Regions from separate parts of the Homo sapiens genome. Here all the other regions are reported to be linked to region 3. The links are microRNA targets in miRTarBase. Many come from high-throughput screens and were not tested one by one. Region 3 holds a microRNA gene; each other region holds the end of a gene's coding sequence.
The links. Region 3 holds the annotated microRNA hsa-miR-6884-5p (AGAGGCUGAGAAGGUGAUGUUG, at 2,000-2,021, shown strand). A microRNA usually pairs through its seed, bases 2 to 8, with sites in the 3' UTR of a target mRNA and lowers its output. Matches are read on the target gene's strand: a 7mer-m8 pairs with bases 2 to 8, a 7mer-A1 pairs with bases 2 to 7 and ends in A, and an 8mer does both.

Region 1 (4,077 bases), not on the chromosome of region 3:
GGGATTACAGGAACACACCACCGTGCCCAACTAAGTTTTGTATTTTTGATAGAGATGGGGTTTCACCATGTTGGCCAAGCTGGCCAAGCTGATCACCCCTGACCTCAGGTGATCTGTTCGCCTCAGCCTCCCAAAGTGCTGGAATTACAGGCATGTGCCACCACACCCAGCTAATTTTTGTATTTTTAGTAGAAATGTGGTTTTACCATGTTGGCCAGGCTGGGCTCGAACTCCTGACCTCAAGTGATCTGCCTGCCTTGGCCTCCCAAAGTGCTGGGATTACAGGTGTGAGCCACTGCGCCCAGCCAAGATTTTTTATCTTTGATTTTCTGAAGTTTGACTACGATATGCCTAGGTGTCTTTTTTTTTGGCATTTACTATGCTTGCTGTTTTCTGAATTTCTTGAATCTACAGTCTGATGTTTGACATTAACTTGGGGAAATTTTCAGTCTTTATTGCTTCTAATATTTCTTCTGTTAGTTTCTTTCTTATGATTTCCCATGATTCATGTTATGTCTTTTGTAGTTGTCTCTCAGTTCTTGGATTTTGTTTTGTATTTTTTGCCTTTGCTTTTCAGTTTCTAGTGTCATATCCTCAAGCTCAGAGATTATTTCCTCAGCCACATCCAGTCTACTAATAATCCCATCAAAGGCATTCTTCATTTCTATTCCAATGTTGTTAACTTCTAGCATTTCTTTTGATTCTTAGACTTTCCATCTCTCTGCTTACATTACTCATTTGTTCTTGGATGTTGTGTTTCTCCTTTAAAGTCTTGAGCACATTAATCATAGTTTAAAAAAAAATTGGTCTGATTAATTCCAACATTCTTGCAATATCTGAATCTGGTTCTAGTGCTCGTTCTGTCTTTTCAAATTGTTTTTTGTCTTTTCATATGCCTTATAATTCCTTCTTGGTAGTGGACACGATGTGCTGAGAAAGGAAAAAAAAAAAGGTCTTCATTCTCATCTTCACCTGGAGTAGGCTAAGGAGCAGGAGGAGGAGGAGGAGGGGTTGGTTTTGCTGTCTCAAGTGAGGCAGAGGCGGAAGAGGTGACAGGGGAGCCAGGCACACTTGGTATAACTGTCTCCCAGGCTGGAGTGCAGTGGCACCATCTCGGCTCCCTGCAAGCTCCGCCTCCCGGGTTCACGGGTTCACGCCATTCTCCTGCCTCAGCCTCCGGAGCAGCTGGGATTACAGGCGCCCTCCACCACGTCCCGCTAATTTTTTGTATTTTCAGTAGAGACGGGGGTTTCACCGCGTTAGCCAGGATGGTCTCCGTCTCCTGACCTCGTGATCCGCCAGCCTCGGCCTCCCAAAGTGCTGGGATTACAGGCGTGAGCCACCGTACCCGGCCCACACTTGGTATAACTTCAATTGAAAAAAAAATCTACATATAACTGGACCCGTGTAGAACCTATGTTGTTCAAGGGTCAACTGTATATAATTTTTGTGTAAGCATGTGATTCAGCAGTATGAAGTCTAAAATCAGCAAAGGTCACCTTTAGTATATAAAAAAAGCACAAAATAGTTTAAATGAGAAATTTCATTTTTATTGAATAAAAACATTATACAAACATGAAGATATATTCAAATATTTGAATACATTAGTTTTTTTTGTAACTTTATATGCTTCATATAAAAGTACTGAGTTCAAAGCAGTATTATACTTGCTAATCATTACCAAAATTCTGATTTTGCTATACTTTTCATCAGGATTTCTGGGACACCTCCCAACTAAACATATTAAGATTCTAGAAAAATAGGCCGGGCGCGGTGGCTCATGCCTATAATCCTAGCACTTTGGGAGGCTGAGGCAGGCAGATCACCTGAGGTCGGGAGTTCGAGACCAGCCTGACCGACATGGAGAAACTCCATCTTTACTAAAAAATAGAAACTTAGCCAGGCATGGTGGCGCATGCCTGTAATCTCAGCTACTCAGGAGGCTGAGGCAGGAGAATCACTTGAACCCGGGAGGTGGAGGTTGCAGTGAGCCGAGATCGTGCCATTGCACTCCATCCTGTGCAACAAGAGTGAAACTCCGTCTCAAAAAAAAAAAAAAAATTCTAGAAAAATGAAAGATAACAAGTCTCCCAAATAAGAGCAGTTTGAGGGTGAGAAATAGCAGTTCTCTAGGAATGCATAACTAAACCATAGTGTACATTTAAGTTACCAAGTTTTAAAAAATTTTAACAATTCTTGGCCGGGAATGGTGGCTAACGCCTGCAATTCTAGCACTTTGGGAGGCCGAGGCAGACGGATCACCTGAGGTATGGAGTTCGAGACCAGCCTGGCCAACATGGTGGAACCCCGTCTCTACTAAAAGTAGCCAGGTATGGTGGCGGGTGCCTGTAATCCCAGCTACTTGGGAGGCTGAGGCAGAATTGCTTGAACCAAGGAGGCGGAAGTTGCAGTGAGCTGAGATTGAGCCATTGCACTCCAGCCTGGGCGACAGAGCAAGACTCCATCTCAAAAAAAAAAAAAAAAAAAAAAAAAAAAAAGCCAGGCAAGGTGGCTCATACCTGTAATCCCAACACATTGGGAGGCCGAGGTGGGCGGATCATGAGGTCAGGAGGTCAAGACCATCCTGGCTGTTATAACACAGTGAAACCCCGTCTCTAATAAAAATACAAAAAATTAGCCGGGCGTGGTGGTGGGTGCCTGTAGTCCCAGCTACTCGGGAGGCTGAGGCAGGAGAATGGCGTGAACCCGGGAGGCGGAACTTGCAGTGAGCCGAGATCATGCCACTGCACTCCAGCCTGGGCAACAGAGTGAGACTCCATCTCAAAAAAAAAAAAAAAAAAAATTCTTATAGTTCCCTTTCAAAAAGCACACTGACCATATTTTTAAATACATATCTTAAATATCTAAAACAATTTTTTTCTCCATAGCTCCCCCAACCCCCCAAAATCCTAGTGAAACGGATAGCAAGTATGTAGTTTGAGAAGGTGCTGTGGACACTGGCTATATGTGAAATGTTCGGATTGCCACACTTCCTCTGAGTAAAGCAATTACGATGGAAAAGTGGACTACAGCTTATATAATTTTGCTCTTTTGTGAAGGTTGTTATGTGGCATAAAATTGTCCTATAATGTTTAAAGACCTTTTCCTGGCCCTACAATATTAATCATGCTCATTATATAACAGTTGGGAAATACAGAAAAGTACAGAAAAGAAAATAATAACACTAATCTTAACACAGAGATACCTACTGGCAACATTTTGGTGTTTATTTCCTGTCTTTTTCCAAAGCATACAAAAATACAAATATATACATATAAAAATGCAGTTACATTGTTGACAGATTTGATATTTTGCCTTCTTCACTGAATATAATGGTCTTGTGTTGTTCTCCTGTCCCCTTATATACTGTCAGAATTTATATTGCCAAAAAACTCTTTCATTGACTGAATATACCATAATGTAAAATAATTTAGAGTATTTATGATTTTATAGCTTTTAAAGTTATATTTTGTATATTCATTTTTTTTGTATAAAATGTTAAAAGTTATAAAATGGAAGTATATAACATATTTTGACAACTGATGCTTCCCAGCATGCAATTCAACAGGTTCAAGCCCCCTTTATGCTTCCCTAACTCCTCAAAGGCTGGGAAGGGACAGCAGGTTAGACACTGCACGAGGATATTACACCCAGGCATTGAAGGTCACATTCCAGAAGGTCCAGTTGAAAGTGACTGAGTGCATTTTAAGTCACACATGGATAACTGAAGGTCTGTTTGTAAAGTTCACATGCTGAACTCCTACAAGCTGTAAAACAGAGTTGATAGGTTTGTGATCCAACCTATTCCTATCGCGGTGTATAAAATGGATGTTGTTACCTAGAAGAGAATAAGAATAAAAGGCTGAGGCATAGTATTATTCATCAGATTTACTGCTTACTAAAATCAAGGAAGCTTTTCAACCTTTAATTAGTCCAAAGGGAAAAATTAATTACCTGGAGTGCATTATATTCTCTATATAATGCCATAATAATTTTAAATCATGGTAATAAAGTATGACAAGGATTATGGTTAAATAAGAGCCATACTTGATGTTTTATGAGATCCAAGGGGAAAGA
Region 2 (4,077 bases), not on the chromosome of region 3:
TGGTGGGCTGTGTACAGTTCACCACCGCTGGGGATCCGGCGCCCTGCCGCCCGCTGAGGGCCCATTTCTTGGGCGGCACCATGATCATCGCCATCGGGGGCGTCATCGTCGCCTCGGTCCTCGTCTTCATCGTTCTGCTCATGATCCGCTATAAGGTGTATGGCGACGGGGACAGCCGCCGCGTCAAGGGCTCCAGGTCGCTCCCGCGGGTCAGCCACGTGTGCTCGCAGACCAACGGCGCAGGCACAGGCGCGGCACAGGCCCCGGCCCTGCCGGCCCAGGACCACTACGAGGCGCTGCGCGAGGTGGAGTCCCAGGCTGCCCCCGCCGTCGCCGTCGAGGCCAAGGCCATGGAGGCCGAGACGGCATCCGCGGAGCCGGAGGTGGTCCTTGGACGTTCTCTGGGCGGCTCGGCCACCTCGCTGTGCCTGCTGCCATCCGAGGAAACTTCCGGGGAGGAGTCTCGGGCCGCGGTGGGCCCTCGAAGGAGCCGATCCGGCGCCCTGGAGCCACCAACCTCGGCGCCCCCTACTCTAGCTCTAGTTCCTGGGGGAGCCGCGGCCCGGCCGAGGCCGCAGCAGCGCTATTCGTTCGACGGGGACTACGGGGCACTATTCCAGAGCCACAGTTACCCGCGCCGCGCCCGGCGGACAAAGCGCCACCGGTCCACGCCGCACCTGGACGGGGCTGGAGGGGGCGCGGCCGGGGAGGATGGAGACCTGGGGCTGGGCTCCGCCAGGGCGTGCCTGGCTTTCACCAGCACCGAGTGGATGCTGGAGAGTACCGTGTGAGCGGCGGGCGGGCGCCGGGACGCCTGGGTGCCGCAGACCAAACGCCCAGCCGCACGGACGCTGGGGCGGGACTGGGAGAAAGCGCAGCGCCAAGACATTGGACCAGAGTGGAGACGCGCCCTTGTCCCCGGGAGGGGGCGGGGCAGCCTCGGGCTGCGGCTCGAGGCCACGCCCCCGTGCCCAGGGCGGGGTTCGGGGACCGGCTGCCGGCCTCCCTTCCCCTATGGACTCCTCGACCCCCCTCCTACCCCTCCCCTCGCGCGCTCGCGGACCTCGCTGGAGCCGGTGCCTTACACAGCGAAGCGCGGGGAGGGGCAGGGCCCCCTGACACTGCAGCACTGAGACACGAGCCCCCTCCCCCAGCCCGTCACCCGGGGCCGGGGCGAGGGGCCCATTTCTTGTATCTGGCTGGACTAGATCCTATTCTGTCCCGCGGCGGCCTCCAAAGCCTCCCACCCCACCCCACGCACATTCCTGGTCCGGTCGGGTCTGGCTTGGGGTCCCCCTTTCTCTGTTTCCCTCGTTTGTCTCTATCCCGCCCTCTTGTCGTCTCTCTGTAGTGCCTGTCTTTCCCTATTTGCCTCTCCTTTCTCTCTGTCCTGTCGTCTCTTGTCCCTCGGCCCTCCCTGGTTTTGTCTAGTCTCCCTGTCTCTCCTGATTTCTTCTCTTTACTCATTCTCCCGGGCAGGTCCCACTGGAAGGACCAGACTCTCCCAAATAAATCCCCACACGAACAAAATCCAAAACCAAATCCCCCTCCCTACCGGAGCCGGGACCCTCCGCCGCAGCAGAATTAAACTTTTTTCTGTGTCTGAGGCCCTGCTGACCTGTGTGTGTGTCTGTATGTGTGTCCGCGTGTAGTGTGTGTGTGTGTGTGTGTGTGTGTGTGTGTGTGTGTGTGTTGGGGGAGGGTGACCTAGATTGCAGCATAAGGACTCTAAGTGAGACTGAAGGAAGATGGGAAGATGACTAACTGGGGCCGGAGGAGACTGGCAGACAGGCTTTTATCCTCTGAGAGACTTAGAGGTGGGGAATAATCACAAAAATAAAATGATCATAATAGCTAACGCTTAGTGAATACTTACTTACTATGTGCCAAGCACTTAAGTCATTTAATTCTCACAACACCAGGACATATCGGTATTATTATCCTGTTTTCCAGATGAGGGAATTTTGGCCCAGAAAAGTTAAATAACTGGCCCAAGGTGGTAAAACTGGGATTTAAAAAGGCAGGCAGGCCAACTTCTGAGTCTCTACTATAGGGGTGAAAAGACAGCTTCCCCTTCACTCTCTGAAATTTCACTGGAATGGGCTGACAATAGATTAACAAGAGAAAAGGAATATGGAGGGTATTTAACATGCACTAGGAAAATCACAGGAAAGTGATTACCCAATAACCCAGTGAGGTTTATATACTTATATACCTTTCTTCACAGGAGGGGAGATGGGGAAAGGAAGGCAATTTTGAGGGGTAATAAATGATTTTGGGGAAAATAAATGGGTCCAGGAGATAGAATTTAGCTTGTAAATGTCTCTGGAATTTGAGACTGACAGACAGATAATTTCTTGTGACAAAGTCCGTCCAGGTGTAGACATTTCTCTGTCTTTTTTTCCTGTTAAAGATAATGAAATGTCAGGGAGAGGACAGAAGGCACTTGTGTTCTTTTTGATCTTTAGGCAGATAAGAAGACATAGGAGGAAAGCCTCTTCCAGCATCTATGGATCTCTAAGTGCCTTTAATTTAAAATAATCAGCATACCAGGGTGCCATATTTTGGGGTGACATTCCCTGAACTCCTTTAATACTCAACTAGAGCACTGTACTGCTGAGCAGTTATTGAATATTCATTCCACCCTCTGAGACCTCACAACTCAGTGGGGTAGGGTAGATCTATCCTTGGTCCCATTTTACAGACAAGAACCTGAACCACAGAGAGATGAAGTCACTTGCCGTAGTCCCTCCATCCCCCCAATGAATAAATAGCGGAGCTGGAAGTTTGATTGTACCCCTACACTATGCTGCCTCTGGGGTCTGTGTCCGGAAGCTGGGGTATGGCCCCCATGAGCTTAGCTGAGCTTGGATATCCACAGCTAGCCTGGTGAGCTCAGGGACAAGACCTCTTGTGTCGCTCTGCCTGGAATCTGAGGGACCCTGGCGGAGGGCATGGAGGATGGTGTGGGGAGAGGAGTTTCTCAGGTGAGGCTGAGGGCTGTGGCTGGGGAAGGAAAGCTGGTTGGGGAGAGGAGAGGGACAGACATCCCAGTCCTTGCAGGGGCCCTGCAGTGATAACACCTTCCTGATCTTGGGGAAGAAGGAGGAAGGCTTCTTGCCAGCCAGGGGCCCCCTGAGGCCAGGGGAGGAGGAGAGAAAGACAGAAATAGAAACGGAGCAGGAGGGAGGGGGATGGATCTAGGCAGACAGGGTGGGAGGCTGCTAGGACAGAGGCACCAGAGAATCACAGGCCAGGAGGCTTCCTCACCCAGGAGCCCAACCACCCTCATTTGTGTCAGTCATGACGACTCCTAGGTACTGAGGGCTTTTCACAAGCCAGGCACAGTGCTCCCAAACCCTCCCTGATGCACGGATAAAGAGCATGCAACCCAGTGCATGGCACATAATGCTTAGGAAATGGAGTTACTCCAATAATAAGTATGACTGCATTTAAAGCCTGCACAGGTATATGCAGTGTGTGCACACAATTTTCAAGATGAGGAAACTGAAGCTCAGAGAGGTTAAGGAGCATCTCCAAGATCACACAGCCAGTTAACAGCAGAGCCATGATTGGAAAGCTGACTGCCTCCAACCTGCACACAGAACCATCAGGAATCTTGTCTCTAATTCACTTGATAAAGCATTATTGAGCATGTATTATGTAACTGGTCCTATGTAGGGGCTATCGCAGTGAACAAAATAGATGAAACAAAACAAGAAAGCCCTGCTCCGTGGTGCCTATATTCTAGAGGGAGGAGAAATAAACAAATAAGCAATTAAATGAGTCCAGGAGGTTGAGGCTGCAATGAGCCCTGATTGCACCACTGCACTCCAGCCTGTGTGGCAGAGTGAGACCCAAAAAACAAGCAAACAAAAACGAGTAAATAATGCATGTCCAGTGGCAAATAAATGTTGTGCCAAGAATGAAAACAGGATGATGGCATAGAGAATGACTTTGAGGCCTACTTTAGGTGGGAGGGTGAAGGATGGTGATGACAGAGCTAAATAAATGCATTGTGAGAAAAGCAGGGAAAAGCATTCCTGGCAAAGGGAACAGCATGTGCAAAGACCCTTA
Region 3 (4,077 bases):
GGTGGCTCACGCCTGTAATCCTAGCACTTAGGGAGGCCAAGGTGGGCGGATCACCTGAGGTCAGGAGTTCAAGACCGGCCTGGCCAACTTGGTGAAACCCTGTCTCTACTAAAAATACAAAAAATTAGCCGGGTGTGGTGGCGGGCACCTGTAATCCCAGCTACTTGGGAGACTGAGGCAGAAGAATTGCTTGAACAGAGGCGGAGGTTGCAGTGAGCTGAGATTGTGCCACTGCACTCCAGCCTGGGTGACAGAGCGAGACTCTTTCTCAAAAAAAACAAAAAAAAAACAAAAAACAAAAACCACAAAAACCTTTTTTCTATAGCAATGTGTCTCATTTTAAGTTTAACCAGTAACTCAGACTCTAGCTATCGCTCTCTGAACATGTGTAGCCCCAGCGCCCAGCTACTGCTCAGCTCATGCCCTGGTCAATGCAGCCTGTCTCCATTCCTTTCAGTTTGAATGAATTCACAACCTATGGCAGCGAAGAAAGCAGTAAGTCAGCCCTGTGCATCCGCAGGCCCAGTGGGCCCTGAGGAGGGGTGTGGCGGGAGAGTGTGGGAGGGAGGAGGGCTCCCCAGCTCAACAGGGGGAGGCTGTGCTCCCTCCTCAGAGCCATGACCAATGGAAGCTTCCACAGAGCTTGAAAGTGGATAATGCTGGAAAAGGATTCTTCCCAGACCATCCCTGTGTCTCCTTCCCCCCCTCATCCCTTTACGACTTGGTTAGGTATGCCAGGAGAGGGTGCTGGGGGTCTTTGGTCTCAAGGAAGGGATGATGTTCCAGTTGAGACTCAAGAAAAGGATTCTGAGCCTCAGAGCTTTGAAGGAGCCACTTGGTCCCTGACCTTCCTAGAGGCAAATCCCGATCCCTGTCAACCCAGACACGGGCTCCCCCCTGCCCTCGTCTGGGAGCTCAGCCTTCCCGTCCTTCCACAGCCAAACCGGCCTCCGTCCGGGCCCTGCTGTTTGACATCTCCTTCCTCATGCTGTGCCATGTGGCCCAGACCTATGGTTCAGAGGTGAGAGAGGGGAGCGACCGGGACGGGGGCTCAAGGGAAGGAGGTAACCCGGAACTCTCCCCACCTCACTGCCTGCGCCCCCGCAGCCTCTCAGCCAGTTAGTTCTGTGGGCCTCAGAAACCAGGTGCCCACCCGGGCTGGAGTCCGTAGAGGCACCTTCAGCCCTATGTTCACATTGACCACTAGGTGGCAGCATTGCCCCCGTCTGGCTCCCTTAGACCAGTTCGTCCCCAGTCTTTGGGCTGGGCTGGAGCAGCAGCCTGGCGGGAAACAGTGCAGCCCCAGGTCCAGCGCTGGCAGGCGCCGCGCCCTCCCCACTCGGCTGGTGCCCCCCTTCCCCTTTCCCAGGTGATTCTGTCCGAGTCGCGCACAGGAGCTGAGGTGCCCTTCTTCGAGACCTGGATGCAGACCTGCATGCCTGAGGAGGGCAAGATCCTGAACCCTGACCACCCCTGCTTCCGCCCCGACTCCACCAAAGTGGAGTCCCTGGTGGCCCTGCTCAACAACTCCTCGGAGATGAAGCTAGTGTCAGTGGCCCGGGCGCCCACTCCAAGGGTGGCGGTGGGGGCAGGGTCAAGACCCGCTCCCTGAGCCCGTTCCTTGCTCCCCTGTGCTGACTTCTCTGCACACCCGCAGGCAGATGAAGTGGCATGAGGCCTGTCTCAGCATCTCAGCCGCCATCTTGGAAATCCTCAATGCCTGGGAGAATGGGGTCCTGGCCTTCGAGTCCATCCAGGTAGCCCCGCCTTCCCAGCAGCGTTTGCTCCCCTGAGACACAGAGCCAGCCAGTGATGACTTGTTATATTTCGTAAGGGCAAGAAGACCTTTAATCCAGGAGCTCATGTTTTGATATTGATATTTTGTGTAATCGTTGTCTTAGCTACTCCCTCTGGCCCAGGTAGCTCTGGGAAGATCAAACTTGTGGAGAGAGGTGTGGAATGTGGCCCGGGACTCCACCCGCTGCACTTAGCTGCCCGCAGAGGCTGAGAAGGTGATGTTGGCTCAAGAAAGGGAGATAGATGGTAGCCCATCACCTTTCCGTCTCCCCTAGAAAATCACTGATAACATCAAAGGGAAGGTATGCAGTCTGGCGGTGTGTGCTGTGGCTTGGCTTGTGGCCCACGTCCGGATGCTGGGGCTGGATGAGCGTGAGAAGTCGCTGCAGATGATCCGCCAGCTGGCAGGGCCACTGTTTAGTGAGAACACCCTGCAGTTCTACAATGAGAGGTCGGTAACCTGCCTTCCCTTCTCAGACCCTTCAAGTGTGTTGTGAGAAGTCAGCACATCCAATAACAAGCACCCCTCTCTTTTCTGACCTTCGCAAACACGCTACTTGATCACTCACTCACTTTCCTATTCATGCATTCACTCATCTGACTCAGCAAACATGTACTGTGTCTCTGTGGCAGAAGCGTTTATATGCCAGCACCTGCTGTGTTGTCAGAAATGCAGACCCTAAACAGGGTCTGCCCGCAGAGACTCAAGTTCTAGACAACTAGCTCCCAAAAGAACAAAGCTGTGTGACTGTCTAGGAGCTAGGAACCTGTCTGTAGATTTTACAGGCCATGCCCCACCCTCAGTTACCTCTTAGGACAGTTTCCTGCCCTGGCTCTTCAGGGGCTTGGAGGACTTCCCTGGTGACCAGTTACGTTGAGTTCATTCACCCAACCAATAAGTTGTTTGCTTTTTTTAATTGTAAAAAACACATAAGATTTGCCATCTTAGCCATGTTTAAGTGTACTGTTCAGTAGTGTTAAGTATATTCACACTGTTGTGTAACAGGTCTCCAGAACTTTCTTGCATCTCTGAAACTCCATACCCACTGAACAACAGCTTCCTATTTTCCCCTCCCTCCAGCTCCTGGTAACTACCATTTTACTTTGTGTGTCTAGGAATTTGACTACTTTATACTTTTTGTTGTTGTTGTTGTTGAGACAAGGTCTTACCCTTGCCCAGATCAGAGTGAGTCTCACTGCAACCTCAAATTCCTGGGCTCAAGTGATCCTCTCGCCTCAGCCTCCCGAGTAGCTGGGACTGCAGGCCCACAGCCGGCTAATTTTTCTAGTCTTTGTAGAGACAGGGTCTCACTATATTGCCAGGTCTTGAACTCCTGGCCTTGAGTGATCCTCTCACCGTGGTCTCCCAAAGTGCTGGGATTACAGGCGTGACCCACCGTGCCCTGCTGAATTTGACTACTTTTTAGATGCCTCATTTAACTGGAATCATACAGTCCTTGCCTTTTCGTGACTCACTGACTTCACTCAGCATGGTGTCCTCAAAGCTCATCCATGTAGTAGCACGTGACAGGAATTCCTTCCTTTTTAAGGCTGAATAATACTCTGTTGTGGGCCGGGCGTGGTGGCTCACGCCTGCAATCCTAGCACTTTGGGAGGCTGAGGTGAGTGGCTCACTTGAGGTCAGGAGTTTAAGGCCAGCCTGACCAACATGGTGAAACCTTGGCCTTACTAAAAATATAAAAATGAGCAGGGAGTGGTGGCAGGCGCCTGCAATCCCAGCTACTTGGGAGGCTGAGACAGGAGAATTGCTTGAACCCAGGAAGCGGAGGTTGCAGTGAGCCGAGATCACGCCACTGCACTCCAGCCTGGGTGAAAGAGTGAGACTCTGTCTCAAAAAACAAAACAAAAACAAAAGAAACCTCTATTGTGTGGCTATACCACATCTTGATCCCTCCTCTGTCAGTGGACACTTCAGTTGCTTCCACCTTTGGGCTATAGTGAATAGTGCTGCTGTGAACATGGGTGTTTACCAGCTAATACGTTTTGGGTGTTGCCATGTCTTTATGGCAACGTTGAGGATGTCTTTATTTATTTATTTATGTACTTATTTTTGAGACGGCGTTTCGCTCTGTCACCCAGGCTGGAGTGCTGTGGCACTATCTAGGCTCACTGCAATCTCCGCCTCCTGGGTTCAAGAGATTCTCCTGCCTCAGCCTCCCGAGTAGCCGGGATTACAGGCATGTGCCACCACACCCGGCTAATTTTTGTATTTTTGGTAGAGATGGGGTTTCACCATGTTGGCCAGGCTGGTCTCGAACT
Region 4 (4,077 bases), not on the chromosome of region 3:
TAAGAATTTTCTATAGTTCCTCATATTAGGTAAGTCCCAGGAGAGGTGAACTCCTAGGAATTCAAGTAAATTAAGATGATTCTGATAGAACCAGAGCAGCAGAAGTTCATTTCTACTTGGAACCTTCCTCTTCCTGCTCTTTGAGTTCCTATTCCTTGGTGGTAAAATGCTCCTTTTGTTTGTTTGTTTGTTCTTCCTTTAGGCTGATTTTGACAGGGCTGCAGAAGATGTGAGGAAGCTGAAAGCAAGACCAGATGATGGAGAACTGAAAGAACTCTATGGGCTTTACAAACAAGCAATAGTTGGAGACATTAATATTGGTATTATATATTATTAATATTAATATATTCATATGTTACAATTAATATATTAATTGCGATTATAATATATAATTACTTAAAATATAGTAATATACTCCGTTTGAACAATGTCTATAGAAGTGCACAGTAAAATGTTAACCTGCAAATGCATGTCTCCTTCTTTTGCCAGCGTGTCCAGGAATGCTAGATTTAAAAGGCAAAGCCAAATGGGAAGCATGGAACCTCAAAAAAGGTTTTTTAGTCTTTCACAAGTTTAAAGCAAACTTTCTTAATTTCCCAGTGCACCAATCAGGGAGATAACCTGTTTGTATCTTTCTAGGGTTGTCGACGGAAGATGCGACGAGTGCCTATATTTCTAAAGCAAAGGAGCTGATAGAAAAATACGGAATTTAGAATACAGCATATGAGGAATTTTTCCTTTTGAAGACTTCCAAATGCTATCATGACCTAACATTTAGAGGGAGAGGCATACTGTTAACTTGATGTATCATGTATATTTTTGCTATTAGCATGAGCTGTAGTACTTAGAAGTATACTGAAACTACATAGTTAACTCAATTGTACTTGCTTAAACCAGGTGTCTTTAAAAGTTCTTTTTAAGAAAATGTGGCACATATACACCATGGAATACTATGGAGCCATAAAAAGGGATGAGTTCATGTCCTTTGCAGGGACATGGATGAAGCTGGAAACCATCATTCTCAGCAAACTATCACAAGATCAGAAAACCAAGCATGTTCTCACTCATAAGTGGGAGTTGAACAATGAGAACACATGGACACAGGGAAGGGAACATCACACACTGGGGCCTGTCGGGGACTAGGGGGTTAGGGGAGGGATAACATTAGGAGACATACCTGATGTAGGTGACCGGTTGATGGGTACAGCAAACCACCATGGCACATGTATACCTATGTAACAAAACTGCACGTTCTGCATATGTATCCCAGAACTTAAAGTATAAAAAAAAAAATTCTTTTAGAAAAGTATTTTTTATTTTTATAGAGTTAGGGAGTACAGTTGCAGTTTTTGTTTGTTTGTTTGTTTTTTCTTGAGGAGTCTCACTCTGTCACCCAGGCTGGAGTGCAGTCGTGTGATCTCGGTTCACTGCAACCTCCGCCTCCTGGGTTCAAGTGATTCTCTTGCCTCAGCCTCCCGAGTAGCTGGGATTACAGGTGCTTGCCACCATGGCTGGCTAATTTTTGTATTTTTAGTAGAGACGGGGTTTTGCCATGTTGGCCAGGCTGGTCTCGAACTCCTGACCTCAGGTGATCTGCCCACCTTGGCGCTGGGGTTGCAGGTGTGAGCCACCACACCTGGTCACAGGTGCAGTTTTGTTACATGGATATATTGTGTAGTGGGGAAATCTGGGCTTTTAGTGTAACCATCACCAAAATACTGTACATTGTACCCAAAAGGTAATTGCTCATCCCTCACCCCCTCCCACCTTTCCAAGCCTCCAGTGTCTATTATTCCACACTCCATGACCCTGTATACACCCTGTTTAACTCCCACTTATAAGTGAAAACATGTGGTATTTTTTTTTGTTTCTGAGGGTTCTTTAAAAATCTTTATTTTCTTATTTTTTTCTGAGTTGTTTCACTTAAGATAATAGCCTCCAGTTCCACCCACGTTGCTGCAAAAGCCGTAATTTCATTCTCTTTATATGGCTGAGTAATATCCCCTGGTATACATATACAACGTTTTCTTTATCCCATCATCTGCTGATGGATACTTAGGTTGATTCCATATCTTTGCTCTTGTGAATTGTGCTGCAATAGATATACAAGTGCAGGTATCTTTTGGATAGAATGATTTATTTTCCTTTAAGAAGATACCCAGTAGTGGGATTGCTGGGTAGAATGGTAGTTCTATTTTTAGTTCCATGAGAAATTTCCGTGCTGTTTTTCATAGAGGTTGTACTAATTTACATTCCCACCAATAGTGTATAAGCATTCCCTTTTCTCCACATCTGTTGTTTTTTGACTTTTTAGAAAGTCTAGCCCTGGTAATATGTGTACAGATTTGAACAGCTGTTTGTTCTTTTGGCTCATCTGTTCTGTTACAATAAGTTAATGTTACTGGTGAAATAAAAACAGGTTATTAAGAATCAATGGCAAGGCTGAGCGTGGTGGCTCACGCCTCTAATCTCAGCACTTTGGGAGGCCGAGGTAGGTGGATTACTGAGGTCAGAAGTTCGAGACCAGCCTGACCAACATTGCAAAACCCCATCTCTACTAAAAATACAAAAATTAGCCAGCCATTGGTGGTGCACACCTGTAATTCCAGCTACTTGGGAGGCTGAGGCAGGAGAATTGCTTTTACCCAGGAGATGGAGGTTGCAGTGAGCCAAGATCACACCACTGCACTCCAGCCTGGGCGACAAAACAAGACTCCGTCTCAAAAAAAAAAAAAAAAATTACAAGTCTGTCCATAGCAGTTTAAAGAAATTTAAAAAGCCCCCATAGGAATATCTATTTTTCTTTAAATTTTTACATTTAAGACATTTAAGACAAAAAGGCAAACTAAAATGTATCTAGTGATAAACTGTACCACTACTGTACCCCATATGTTCAGTTCTATCTGAGTAAAAATAGAGTCTGGAATATAATATTGGCCCCCTACTCAGTCTTTCTGGATGGTACACAGGCTCTTTGAAAGAAGACAGTCTCATGTTAACAATTCAAAAAATTGTTTGAGATCCCTTAAGATAAATATCCCCCAAAACAGTGTACCTCTATTCCCTGCATAAAAATTTAGATTTGGAATGGTATGACCAGAGGAATAGATCCACTTCATGTTACTACAACAACAAAACTATCTAGGTCTGCTAGATGAATTTCCAGGGAATTATGCTGAGCAGAAAAAGCCAGTCCCCAAATGTGACATGTATAATTCCATTTATATAACATTCTTTTTCTTTTCTTTTTTTTTTTTTTTTTTTTTGTTGAGACAGGCTGTCACTCTGTTACCCAGGCTGGAGCGCAGTGGCACGCTCTCGGCTCACTGCAACCTCTGCCTCCCAGGGTCAAGCAATCCTCCCATCTCAGCCTCCAGAGTAGCTGGGACTACAGGTGCGTGCAACCATGCCCAGCTAATTTTTGTATTTTTCATAGAGACAGGGTTTCACCATGTTGCCCAGGCTGGTCTGGAACTCCTGATCTGAGGTGATCTACCCACCTTGGCCCCCCAAAGTGCTGAGACTATAGGCATGAGCCACCGCGTCCAGCCAGGATTCTTGAAAGGGAACATTTATAGACGCAAAGGATGGAATAGTGGTTGCCAGGGAGGAGGGAGGTGGGTGTGGCTTTAAAAGGGCAGCAGGAGGGATGATCCTGCAGTGATGGAATGTTCTGTCTTGATTGTAGCAACACCAATATGCTGATTGTGATATTATACTATAGTTTTGCATAACAGTTACCATTAAAGGAAATTGGGTAAAAGGCTACACAAATCTCTCTGTATTATTTCTTACAAATAAAAGGGAATCTGCAGTTACCTCAAAAAGTTTACTTTTAAAAATCGAGGTTGATTTCTCATCGGGAAAATTTTGGCAATCAAGATAATTCTCATCTTTCTAAATTTCGCCTAATGATAGACGTCTTCCACGATGATACCAAGGCCTAATTCCTTCAAAGAGAAGACATCATCAATGATAGACTTGGTGTCTTACAGTTGAGGGCTTGAAAACTCCTGAAAGTTGTTCCCATGTGGACTTTACCTCCACCAGGTAGAGATGCAGGGGAAAAAGCTTACC
Region 5 (4,077 bases), not on the chromosome of region 3:
ATAGCTCACTGCAGCCTTGAACTTCTGGGCTCAAGAGATCCTCCAGTCTGTGTCCAGAGTAGCTGGGATTACAGGCATGTGCCACCATGCTCAGCTAATTTTTAATTTTTTTGTAGAGACAGGGTCTCATTATATTGCCCAGGCTGGTCTCAAACTCCTGGCCTCAAGTGATCCTCTCACCTCAGCCTCCCAAAGTGCTGGGATTAGAGACATAGGCCACTGCGCTCAGCCAAATTGCTAATTCTTAATTCTCAGCATTTATTAATAAATATTGCTAAATTCTTTTTTTTTTTTTTTTTTAAGACGGAGTCTCGCTCTGTCGCCCAGGCTGGAGTGCAGTGGGGTGCTCTCGGCTCACTGCAAGCTTCGCCTCCAAGGTTCACGCCATTCTCCTGCCTCAGCCTCCTGAGTAGCTGGGACTACAGGCACCTGCCACCACGCCCGGCTAATTTTTTGTATTTTTTAGTAGAGACAGGGTTTCACTGTATTAGCCAGGATGGTCTTGATCTCCTGACCTCGTGATCCACCCGTCTCGGCCTCCCGAAGTGCTGGGATTACAGGCATGCTAAATTCTTTAAAAAAAAATACACCCTTAAGAAATGTAAATATTTAAAGCAAAAAATACACTTTTACAGCTTTGGAAAACTGCAATTCCTTTAAAAGTTAAATATATTCCTCACAATTCCGCTTCTAGGTATATATCCATGAGAAATAAAAACAAATGTCTACACAAAAACTTGTACACAAATGTACACAGCAGCATTACTCACAACAGCTGAAAAGTAGACACAAGCCAAATGTCCATCAACTGATCAACAGATAAACAAAATGGTAGATCCACACGATGGAATATTATCTGGCCATGAAAAAGAATGCAGTACTGATACATGGCTACATGGATGAATCTTGAAAACACTACACTAACTGAAAGAACCCAGACACAAGAAGCCACATGTTATATGATTCCATTTACATAAAATGTCCAAAATGGACAAAGTAGATTAGTGGTGCCAAGGACTAAGGGGAAGAGGAAATGTAGGGGTTGGAGGAATAAGGAGTGGCCTACAATGTGTACGAGCTTTATTTTGAAGGTGATGAAAATGTTCTAGATTTTTTAGTGGTGATAGTTGCACAAACTTCTGAATATACTTAAAAGCTACTGAATTCTTTACTTTAAAAAGGTGAATTTACTTCCCATAATGTTATGTGGTAATATTTTATCTCAATAAAATTTTTAAGAAGTTTTCTCCCACCCTAGACACCCAATCTCATTCCTCAAAGACAAACACTGTTTATAATTTCTTTATATTCTTTCAAAGATTGTTAGGCATATAATTAGCATATAAATACACTGCATTTGGGGTGTTTCTAGTCCACAGTTTTTTTAAACAATGCCACATCAAACATCTTCAGTTACAAAATTTCGGTTAGCTAAGAGGAATACATTGAAGAGATCTAATGTACAACATGGTGACTGTTGTTAATAACAATACTGTGTGATCTTGAAAAAAACAAAGAGAGTAGATTTTAAGTGTTCTCACTGCAAAAATGACAACTATGTGAGGTTCTAATGTTAACTAGCTTGATTTGGCCATTCCACATGCATATATATTTCAAAACATCATGCTGGAAATGATAAATATATACAATTCATCTGTCAATTTAAAAATTAAATAAATAGGCCAGAAGCAGTCGCTCATGCCTGTAATCCCAGCACTTTGGGAGGCCAAGGTGGGCAGATCACCTGAGGTCAGGAGTTCAAGACCAGCCTGGGCCATCATGGTGAAACCTCGTCTCTACTAAAAATACAAAAATTAGCCGGGTGCGGTGGCCGGTTCCTGTAATCTCAGCTACTCAGGAGGCTGAGACAGGAGAATCACTTGAACCTGGGAAGTGACGGTTGCAGTGAGCCGAGACCGCACCACTGCACTCCAGTTTGGGGGACAGAGTGAGACTCCATCTCAAAAATAAATAAATAAATTAATTAATTAATTAATTGATCCCTACATACATGAGTTTATCTGTAAGATAAATTCTATTAATAATAAGTGAAACTGCTAAATCAGGGCAGGTGCAGTAGCTCATGCCTGTAATCCCAGCACTTTGGGAGGCCGAGGCAGGAGGAACGCTTTAAGCCAGGAGTTTAAGACCAGCCTGGACAACAAAGTGAGACCCTGTCTCTAAAGAAAAATAAAAAGATCAATTGGGTGTGATAGCATGCACCTGCAGTCCCAGCTGAGACAGGATTGCTTGAGCGCAGGAGTTGGAGGCTGCAGTGAGCTATGATTGTGCCACTGCACTTTAGCCTGTAAGAGAATTAGACCTCATCTCTAGAAAAAGAAAAAAGAAATCGCTGAGTCAGAGAAAATTTGTATTTTTAATTTTGATTTTGTCAAACTGCCCCCCACAGAGGTTACATATACACTTTCCTAGTGGTAAACGAAATGTTTTGCCAGTATTGTGTACTACCAGCTTTTGCTCTTTGCCAGTCTAATAAAAAATAGTATTTTACATTTCTTTAATTTTAAGTAAGCATTTTTGTGTCTCTAAGTATTTTTCTGTGAACTATCTATTATTGTCCTTTGTCTGTTTTCTATTGCTAGCATTTAAAAATACTTTAGGCCAGTTCCGGTGGCTCACGTCTGTAATCCCAACACTTTGGGAAGCCGAGGTGGGCGATGTTCAGGAGTTTAGGAGTTCAAGATCAGCCCAGCCAACATGGTGAAACTAAGTCTCTACTAAACATACAAAAATTAGCTGGGCACGGTGGTGCGTGCCTGTAATCTCAGCTACTTGGTAGGCTGAGGCAGGAGAATTGCTTGAACCGGGGGAGCGGAGCTTGCAGTGAACTGAGATTGTGCCACTGCAACTCCAGCCTAGGTGACAGAGGGAGACTCTGCCTCAAAAAAAAAAAAAAAAAAAACTTTAAACTAACACAGTATACTAATCTCTATTAAAAAAGAATACCATACGTTTGGGGCTGGGCGCAGTGGTTTATGCCTGTACTCCCATCACTTTGGGAAGCCAAGGCAAGTGGATCACCTGAGGTCAGGAGTTTTGAGACCAGCCTGGCCAACATGGTGAAACCCAGCCTCTACTACAAATACAAAAATTAGCCAGCTGTGGTGGTGCATGCCTGTTTTCCCAGCTACTCCGGAGACTGAGGTGCGAGAATCACTTGAACCCAGGAGGCGGAAGCTGCAGTGAGCTGAGATGGCGCCACTGCACTCCAGCCTGGGCGAGAGACAGAGACTCAGTCTCAAAAAAAAAAAAAAGAATACCATATGTCTGGATTAAATTTACTTCCAGTAAATTTGTTTGTATGCATATTCTCTTCTATTTAATCCATGATCTTCTAGTGTTCAGTAATCAAATCTTCATTTGGATTAATTCTGGTAATTTATTACTGCTAATATGTGTAATTAGCAAAGATCAGCTAATTTGTAAATTGGTTTTTGTGAGGGGAATGGATAAGAGGAAAGGTTTAGAAAAGGAGAATAAAACTTAGAACTATGTATGGGGGAATGTGGTATCTTTGGACAGTACAACTTGTCCCAGGCAAAAAGCAAAATAAGACAAAATTTGGCCATTATATTGGCCCCAAATTCTATAGGCTCCATCTGAATATTTTGGTTGGTTTTCTCACTATAAAATATGGTAAATATGGGTACATAAAGGTCCGTGTATGCTGGTAGGAGCGGTAGAAAAAATTTGGGCATGTTTAGTATATAATATTCTGTGCCTTTTTTTTATGCTTGAAAGATTTCCCCAAAAGAATCTGTTTTAAGTGGTATAAATGCCTACCAGTGTCTGCATGTAAGATCCTTATCCAGCTGCTTGTTTGGAGCCTGCTGCAGGGGGTACAAGGCTGTCCAGCTGTTGGCGATGTCCTGTATTAATCAACCATTCATAAAACTTGTTCTCTACCAGTACCTGGAACTGCTTCCTTTGATCCCTAAAATTGCGATTATGAGTAAAAAGAATATAAGAACATGAATTCATATAAATTGTACTCTAAGCAATTATACAATATTTTAATAGGATAATGTTAAATGATTAATTATTTCTTGTTATCCT
Region 6 (4,077 bases), not on the chromosome of region 3:
CCCAGCACTTTGGGAGGCCGAGGCGGGCAGATCACCTGAGGTCGGGAGTTTGAGACCAGCCTGACCAACATGGAAAAACCTCGTCTCTACTAAAAATACTGGCTGGGCATGGTGGTGCATGCCTGTAATCCCAGCTACTCGGGAGGCTGAGGCAGGAGAATTGCTTGAAACCTGGGAGGTGGAGGTTGCAGTGAACCAAGATCGTGCCATTGCACTCCAGCCTGGGCAACAAGAGCAAAACTACATCTCACAAAAAATAAAAAAATAAGTGGCATAGATGTGTATAGGACTTTGAATTTTTCTTGGGGACTGACATTCTAGGGGCAGTGGCGAGTCTAAACTTACTATTGAGTACAATGTCCATGCCTGCATGTACTTTTGGGGTGAGAATCCTCAGGTTCTCAAGGACTCCCCAACTCCAAGAACCACTGTGGTAGAAACAGATGACTACAACCTGAGAACTTTCACAGAAGCAAATTCTTGCCTCCTTGCCTCCCCTCTCTCCCCTGCAGGGATTGGAGTTTGGAATCCTGCCTTCGATGTCACCCCCCACGACCTCATCACTGGTGGCATCATCACAGAACTGGGGGTCTTTGCCCCTGAGGAGCTCCGGACAGCCCTAACCACCACCATCTCTTCCAGGGATGGAACCCTAGATGGACCCCAGATGTAACCAACTCAGCTCTCCCTAGCCTGCCTCTCTAGGTTTTTCAATACATTTCTTGAATGGCTACCCAAAAGCTGACCGTCCAGCCCCTGACCACACTTGTTCCTAGTGCAGGGAGCTCAGACAGGGCCTTCCATCTAGAGCCCAGCACCTAGAGCCAGGCTGCCCAGATTCAAATCCTGACTCCGCCACTTTTCCCACTGTATGATCTTGGGCAAGTCACTTCACCTCTCTGTGCCTTGGTTTCCTCATTTATAAAATGTGGATAACAGGCCGGGCGCAGTGGCTCACACCTGTAATCCCAGCACTTTGGGAGGCCGAGGCAGGTGGATCACAAGATCAGGAGATTGAGACCATCCTGGCTAACATGGTGAAACCCCATCTCTACTAAAAATACAAAAAATTAGCCGGGTGTGGTGGTGGGCACCTGCAGTCCCAGCTACTTGGGAGGCTGAGGCAGGAGAATGGCGTGAAACTGGGAGGCAGAGCTTGCAGTGAGCCGAGATAGCGCCACTGCACTCCAGCCTGGGCAACAGAGCGAGACTCCGTCTCAAAAATAAATATAATTAATTAATTATTTAATTAAAAAAATAAAAAATAAATGTGGATAATACTAGTACCTCCCTCTTAAGGTCAGGGCTGGAGCTAGGGTGACATCTCCAGGGCAGAATTTTAAGAGGACACCAAAAAAGCTCAGCAACCAAGATAAAAAATATTTTAAAGCAATATTTTGTTTTGGGTTTTTTTTTTTTGAGATCAAGTATCACTCGTTACCCAGGCTGGAATGTAGAGGCGAGATCTCAGCTCACTGAAACCTGTGCCTCCCCGGTTCAAGCGATTCTCCTGCCACAGCCTCCTGAGTAGCTGGGATTACAGGCATGCGCCACCATGCCCAGCTAATTTTTCTATTTTTAGTAGAGACATGATTTCACCATGTTGGCCAGGCTGGTCTCGAACTCCTGACTCAAATGATCCCCCTGCCTCAGCCTCCCAAAGTGCTGGGACTACAGGCATGAGCCACTGTGCCTGACCTTACAGCAGTATTTTTTAAAAATCAAAATTAATGCAAAAATCCATGATGAGGCCAGGCTTGGTGGCTCATGCCTGTAATTCCAGCACTTTGGGAGGATCCCTTGAGCCCAGGTGTTTGAGACCAGTTTGGGTAACATAGGAAGAGCTTGTCTCTACAAACAAAAATTTAAAAACAATGAGCTGGGCATGGAACTCACACCTCTAGCCCCAGCTACTCAGGCTGAAGTGGGAGGATGGCTTGAGCCCAGGAGTTCAAGGATGCAGTGTGCTTTGATTGCACTACTGCACTTCACCCTAAGCAACAGAGTGAGACCCCATCTCTTTAAAAAAAAAAAAAAATCCATGATGAACAAAACAAGTATTTGTTTGAGACGGGGTCTCGCTCTGTCGCCCAGGCTGGAGTACAGTGGTGCCATCTCAGCTCACTGCAACCTCCGCCTTCTGGGTTCAAGCGACTCTCCTGCCTCAGCCTCCCGAGTAGCTGGGATTACAGGAGCCTGGCACTATGCCTGGCTAATTTTTGTATTTTTATTGGAGACACCATGTTAGTCGTGGCTGGTCTCCAACTCCTGACCTCGGGTGATCCGCGCCCCGCGGCCTCCGAAAGTGCTGGGATTACAAGCGTGAGCCACCGTGCCCGGCCTAAATAAAATTTTGAAGAGGCTAGAACCCCGCACTTGTGCCTTGAGCTTACTGACCTCAACACCCTGGTTCCACTAAAACTTTATTTACAAAATTATGCTGCCGGTCTGCAGGATGTAGTTTAACAATTTGATTATTTTGGATATTAAAATATTTTTTAAGTCTTGAAAATATTGTTTACTATTACCAAAGTTTTTGAACCTTCTTAAATTCTGTACCAGAGGTGAGTGCCACACCCTAACCTAGTCTGAGTTTTTATGTGTAAAGATCATAAAACGTTGTAAGTTTTCTAAAACACATAAGCTCTCAATAAACGTTAGCTTATCATTGTCACCGTTTTGTTCGTAATGTTTGAAAACTCCAACTGTGATCCACTACACTACCCTTGTGGGATGCTGTCTCTTTAACTCTGTGCCACGTTGTATCCCGTGAGTTCTTGCGTTTTTCCGCCCCGCTGTATCCCATGGTTCCCTGTGCCTTCCGGCTACGACTGCTCACAGTCCCGCCTCTTCCGCTGCGTGCCGGACCATGGCGCAGGGGCAGCGCAAGTTTCAGGCGCACAAACCCGCAAAGAGTAAGACGGCAGCGGCAGCCTCTGAAAAGAATCGGGGCCCAAGAAAAGGCGGTAAGGAGCGGCCCGGGGACTTGGGGGCGAGGTGGACCCCCGGCTTCCCGGCCTCACGTGAGCACATCTTTCCCCAGGTCGTGTTATCGCTCCCAAGAAGGCGCGCGTCGTGCAGCAGCAAAAGCTCAAGAAGGTGTGCGGGGGCGAGAGATGGAGCCCGGAGGGCGGCGAGTAGCGAGGGGTGGAACCCGGAGGACGGCGAGGGGGGATGGGTGGAGCCCGGGGATCAGTGAGGGGAGAGGGTGGATCCTGGGGACGAGCTAGGAGCGAGGGGATAGAGCCAGGGGCCGCGTTAGGAGCGAAGGATGGAGCCCGGGGCGCAGAGAGGGGTAAGAGGTGGAAGCTGGCGAGGGATAGGGGCTGGGGGACGTGCTAGGGACGAGAGATGAAATCTGGAGGCCGGCGAGGGAAGGAGCACAGGGATCGGCAAAGGGCAAGGGATGAGGCCTGGAGGACTCCCAGCTCTGTGGGCCTCCCTTTTCTTCCTTGTGCAAGGGGTGCAGGAACACCACTTACCACTTCAAAAGGGCCTCGTAGAAGCAAGACCTGCGGCCCAAAAAGGGTTCCAATAACGTCAGCCTCTTGCTGTTACTGTTTTCTTTAATTGAACTCAGGAAGACAGCGAGGTGACATGGGAAGGGAATTGAAAGCCCAGCTTTGTAAACCTAGAACAGCAGAGGGCTCAAAGAAGTGTGAGGGTGCGTTGGTTATCGTCATTTTTTTTTGAGTCAGGGTCTCACTGTTGCCCAGGCTGGAGTGCAGTGGCCCCATTATAGCTCACTGCAGCCTCAGCCTCCTGGACTTAGGCAATCTTTCCGTCTCAGCCTCTCGAGTAGGTAGAATTGCAGGTGCTCGCCAATACGCGGCTAATTTTATTTTTTTTGTATTTTTGGTAGAGACAGGTTTCACTATGCTGCTCGGGCTGGTCTTGAACTCCTGGCCTCAAGGCATCCTCCCGCCTCTGCCTCCCAAAATGCTGGGATTACAGGCGTGAGCCACCCTATGGTTGTTTTTAAGTGCAACATTTATATGTAGATGGGTAAGGTTGAGCTTGTAAAGAAGTTGGAAGGAGATTTAAAACTGGTTTTGGTGGGAGTCAAACCTGGGTTTG
Region 7 (4,000 bases), not on the chromosome of region 3:
CTTCAGATTCAATTGAAATGATGATGCCATCACTCTCATGCAATCCTGTTTGCCATTTACCCAAAATGATGTAATAATTACACTTGTATGAAATAAGGTCTGTTTTAAATTATCCAGCTTACATCCTTCACTATAACACTCTCTGTATAATATTCTTATGACATATACAAGATTCAAGAAGCCAATACCTCAGTCCACAGCAAGGAATAAAATGCAGCCACTGGTTACCAGTACTATGTACATATGTACACAGATATGTCACATTAGAACAGCAATTCAGAGTTAATTGCCTTGGGGCAAGTTGGTCATATAAAATAAATAATACAGGTCTTGGGAACAGCTTTGGAGCTTTCTATATGTGTTGTTTATTCCTATGATGAAAGAATTTTAGATACAATTAATTAAAAAAAATTTCCCTAGCTGTCCCTCCCCCAACCTATGTTAAGAGTACAAATTGCCAGTGGAGCAGCAGCAGAGCACTGCATTAATGGAGACCTGGGCCTGGCATCGTGCTGGGGTCTCAGAAGCACATGGCCATTCCTGTCTTCATTTCTAAAAGACTGTAAAACCATCCCAAAATTTGGCACCATGGGGACTATTGGCAATTCGAACTCGAGCTAGCTAGGGAGTCTAGGAAGCCTTGGGTGACAATTCCAAAGCTTTGGCAGTGCTGCTTAGGGAAGCTTCACATGCAAACATCTCAAATCAATTTCCCTAATGGCTAGATTCAGCATTCCCAGGTCCCTGGGGAGCAGCCAGTGTACCATAGGGCACCCCCAGGAGTGATGTCTGCACATCCCCAACAGCTGGAAAAGGGCTAGGGAGAGAGAGCTCCAGAAGGAAGGGAACAAAATACTCTGATTTTAGATATAACTATCCTAACAACTATTAATGAAACTGCTACAGTTTTGCCTAGAACTTCTATCTTTTGAAAATCTACAAGCCATAGTAGGGGGGAAAGAGGCAGTAATGGGAGTAGGATATATACACTCTATTTGGTTAACATCAGAAATGAATTAATTGTACAAAGCAAAATTTAGAAGACGCCTTGTGAACCTCAATTAGAGAGAAAGTTATGTAACTCGTGCACTCAGCACCATCTGTTAAGAAATTCTGCAGGGCACGTAACCACTGATTTACTAATTTAGTAGCTTTTCTTTTTCATCTTTATCAAAACACTGTTGCTTTCATTTTAGACAATAAAAATAACCGGAATTTAAAAATGTCTTTTCCTTGCTATTATACATTTTTGTGCTACGTTAAAAATAAAGAAAGTTGGCTATGGGCTGTAAAGTGCTGACACCATTGGTGCTGATTTCAGTTTGATGGTGGGTGGGGGCAACTCTTAGGAGTCAGAATGTCCTGAATTTCCAAGCAAACTCAGCCGCCTGGCCTGGCCATCTCAGCACTGCTCACAGCCAGCATTTGTTTTCCACATTCCCTTCCCTGTCCCCACCCCAAATATTAATACACACATCCACATATTCAGTGTCTCCCCATAGGCAAATGCTTAAATCTAAAATGGTGGCAGATATTTTTTACTAGAAGATTCTATGGCTAAAAAACAATAACCAAGGTTCTGTAATGCTGGAAAATACAGTATACAAAAGTAAGCAAATCTCATGGGAAATCATTAGCAATTCTCAGTGCAGTCAAAGAAAGTTAAGTGCTTGGAGAAATCAAGACAGATTGCAGCCCTCCACATCTACAAGGCAATTTCTTCACTCTCTCAAATTCTCTCCTGGACACTGCTTTGGGAAAACTCTACAGCAGCAGGAGGGGAGAGGGCAGGGTTCCACGGCGAGGAGGTGGCCGGTGAATGTGGCATATGGGAAGCTATAACCACAAATGCTCACAGGGAAAGAACAAAACCAGGTGGATACAGAGGGCTGGGAGGCAACGGAAGTTTCGTTTGGCTGTTTGAGTCACCTTAGGCAAAGAGAGTGACCCAGCATTTTCTCTAAATAATATAAAATACCAAGGTTGGAAAAATGATAAATTAGCGATACAGGAAATGGAGAGCAGCAAGCCAGGCCCCTAAATAATTCTGGCCCACTTATCAATATGGGTTCACGCTTGAATTCCTGACTTACTGTGTTGCAACTGCCAGGTCCCTTTGCTGCCTCCCCTGCAGGCCTGCAGGCCACGGGGCGGTTTGTATTTGCCTGGGGAAAGCTCCCTGATGTGGATGGAGATTTGCAACCAAATGTTGAAGACTGCTGCCTTTCCATTGTCAAGGAGAAGCTTATCCCAGTAGTTTCCCACCAAATCCCAAGCTGCAGTAGCTGGGAACTCTGCACCTGGCTTCAAGGAACACACATACAGTTATAGGCTGCTGCTTCTCAGAACACTGCCTGACACTTGAAAACCACTTGGAAAGGGGCAAGGAAAAACACAAAAACTGGCAGCTGGAGCTCAATTCAGGGTGGTAACCTCACCAGCTCACTCCTTTCTCAATGCAAACAGCTTACTTGCCAGGGAACACTGTGACTCATTCAGTATCATTTCCTTCATCTACTGTTGAAAATGGAAGGAATCATGGTATTGTGGCTTGCTTTTTTCATTTCCCCTAACGTGGTTTCTTGGTCACGTAAGATGAAAAATCAGGGTATCTGTTGGTGAATTTAACAGCTGCCTATTACATATGGTAAGGACTAAGCAAAAGGTTAACGGTCATGCATGATTAGGATAAATGCACAAAGGCTGGTCAGGTGGTATACAAAGTCTATTTAACTATTAAAGGAAGCAAGGGAAGAGGGTTATCTCTGCTGTGCAGGCAGTTGCCACTGGTCTCTCATTCTCTCTGCTTCTCGCAGTCCCCAAGAGCAGCCAAAATAGTAAACCATTCCAAATCTGCTTCCAAGCTGCTACTGAGCAGAAAACATGGGCTCAGAAGGACAAAGCATTCTCAGGACAGCTCTGTCTCTTGGCAGAGGGTGTTGCCACATCAGCCCCTGACCACTCACAGGTGACGCAGTGGCCTGTCTCCTGCAGCACTGGGTGGTCTGTCCTGTCCACTGTTACAAAGAGAGGACACAACAGCTGATGCCTGGAGGACCCTGAACAGGATCTTGAAAAGAATCTTCAGGGAGACTAAATGACACATATGCTATTCACTTCATATATGTGACTCTACAGCTATTTACTTATATATTTTGGACACTGGATGAAAGAGTTGGGAAAACATGAAGAAACCATTTTCCAGTTTCTTAACTACATTGGCCAAGGGCACCCTCTGTTCGTCACTGATTATAGACCTAAGACCACCAGGGAGGGGGGATTCCATGTCTGGGGTGGATGATCCTAATTACAACTCCCACACTTTTCACTAAATTAAAAGAGACCAGTGTGTTGAAAGTCCTTTAGTCTAAGGCAGCTGAGACCCCTGAAGGGTTCACTGCTCTTCTGTTTTGCTGCTATTTCTGAACTTCACCACCATGACTGTTATATTGTCAGGGCAGCCTCTGTAAAATGACTGTAAAACTATGCTCTTGGCCCCAAAGTGAGGTTCATCCAAGCGCTCCTTGATGAATCGAACTGCTTCTTCATTGCTGAAAGCATCCCAGAGACCATCTGATGCCAAGATCATGAACTCAGGCTGAAGCTTGTCCAGGTCAAAGGTCAGGATGTCTGGGTCTGGGATGACCACGTTGAGATTTTTCAGCGGATAATCCCCCAGGGACCGAGACATGGCCAGGATTCCCTGGACCCTCCAGGAGCCATTGAAACTGATGAAACCACCTAGAAAGACAGGATGAGCCCATTAGTTTGACCAGCTGATATCTCACTTACCTGGGATAGTCTAGGTACGTGCGCAACAGGGTGACCTACTTCATGTGAACTGGGCTGTGGGCACTCCCCTTAACCCCATCACTCCTGGGACCCACTGCATGGCCTGGGGTTTTATACTCTACCAGTTGATCCTCATACCCTCATCCTGGCATCTTGAAGGATTTCAATAATATATCAATAAGAGTACTGAAGGTGGCGGATACATATG

Region 1: miRTarBase lists PRXL2C as a target of hsa-miR-6884-5p. Seed matches in the 3' UTR shown: 7mer-m8 at 2,679-2,685, 7mer-m8 at 2,367-2,373, 7mer-m8 at 1,940-1,946 and 7mer-m8 at 1,805-1,811.
Region 2: the mRNA of LRFN1 is a reported target of hsa-miR-6884-5p. Seed matches in the 3' UTR shown: 7mer-m8 at 935-941.
Region 4: miRTarBase lists ACBD7 as a target of hsa-miR-6884-5p. Seed matches in the 3' UTR shown: 7mer-m8 at 1,469-1,475 and 7mer-m8 at 3,368-3,374.
Region 5: miRTarBase lists TBCCD1 as a target of hsa-miR-6884-5p. The part of its 3' UTR that is shown has no 7-base or 8-base seed match.
Region 6: miRTarBase lists MRI1 as a target of hsa-miR-6884-5p. Seed matches in the 3' UTR shown: 7mer-m8 at 1,517-1,523, 7mer-m8 at 1,651-1,657 and 7mer-m8 at 2,166-2,172.
Region 7: the mRNA of PPM1L is a reported target of hsa-miR-6884-5p. The part of its 3' UTR that is shown has no 7-base or 8-base seed match.

What each region holds. Positions count from the first base shown.
Region 1 is chr9:96,638,049-96,642,125 of GRCh38, forward strand. It overlaps PRXL2C (peroxiredoxin like 2C), which reads right to left. Exons shown (of 6, transcript NM_153698.2): 6 at 1,529-3,838. The coding sequence ends at 3,711. Among named protein-coding and RNA genes, the nearest start is that of PRXL2C, 15 kb to the right of the region's middle.
Region 2 is chr19:39,304,347-39,308,423 of GRCh38, reverse strand. It overlaps LRFN1 (leucine rich repeat and fibronectin type III domain containing 1), which reads left to right. Exons shown (of 5, transcript NM_020862.2): 5 at 1-1,858. The coding sequence ends at 791. Among named protein-coding and RNA genes, the nearest start is that of IFNL1, 10 kb to the right of the region's middle. RefSeq lists an enhancer at 96-597.
Region 3 is chr17:40,024,327-40,028,403 of GRCh38, reverse strand. MIR6884 (microRNA 6884) reads left to right here and starts at 1,995; the gene lies at 1,995-2,072. It overlaps MED24 (mediator complex subunit 24), which reads left to right. Exons shown (of 26, transcript NM_014815.4): 15 at 458-495; 16 at 939-1,021; 17 at 1,370-1,548; 18 at 1,658-1,757; 19 at 2,073-2,248. SNORD124 (small nucleolar RNA, C/D box 124) reads left to right here and starts at 759; the gene lies at 759-862. RefSeq lists an enhancer at 847-1,757.
Region 4 is chr10:15,075,166-15,079,242 of GRCh38, reverse strand. It overlaps ACBD7 (acyl-CoA binding domain containing 7), which reads left to right. Exons shown (of 4, transcript NM_001039844.3): 2 at 203-320; 3 at 490-552; 4 at 640-3,768. The coding sequence ends at 713. It overlaps ACBD7-DCLRE1CP1 (ACBD7-DCLRE1CP1 readthrough), which reads left to right. Exons shown (of 8, transcript NR_144471.1): 2 at 203-320. Among named protein-coding and RNA genes, the nearest start is that of ACBD7, 12 kb to the left of the region's middle.
Region 5 is chr3:186,547,325-186,551,401 of GRCh38, forward strand. TBCCD1 (TBCC domain containing 1) reads right to left here. Exons shown (of 8, transcript NM_018138.5): 7 at 3,805-3,955. The coding sequence ends at 3,826. Among named protein-coding and RNA genes, the nearest start is that of CRYGS, 5.0 kb to the left of the region's middle.
Region 6 is chr19:13,771,609-13,775,685 of GRCh38, forward strand. MRI1 (methylthioribose-1-phosphate isomerase 1) reads left to right here. Exons shown (of 6, transcript NM_001031727.4): 6 at 513-2,674. The coding sequence ends at 673. It overlaps C19orf53 (chromosome 19 open reading frame 53), which reads left to right and starts at 2,848. Exons shown (of 3, transcript NM_014047.3): 1 at 2,848-2,966; 2 at 3,044-3,099. The coding sequence starts at 2,870. RefSeq lists enhancers at 2,539-2,608, 2,679-2,878, 2,855-3,384, 3,385-3,913.
Region 7 is chr3:161,068,552-161,072,551 of GRCh38, reverse strand. It overlaps PPM1L (protein phosphatase, Mg2+/Mn2+ dependent 1L), which reads right to left. Exons shown (of 4, transcript NM_139245.4): 4 at 1-3,741. The coding sequence ends at 3,395. Among named protein-coding and RNA genes, the nearest start is that of B3GALNT1, 35 kb to the left of the region's middle. RefSeq lists an enhancer at 2,807-2,856.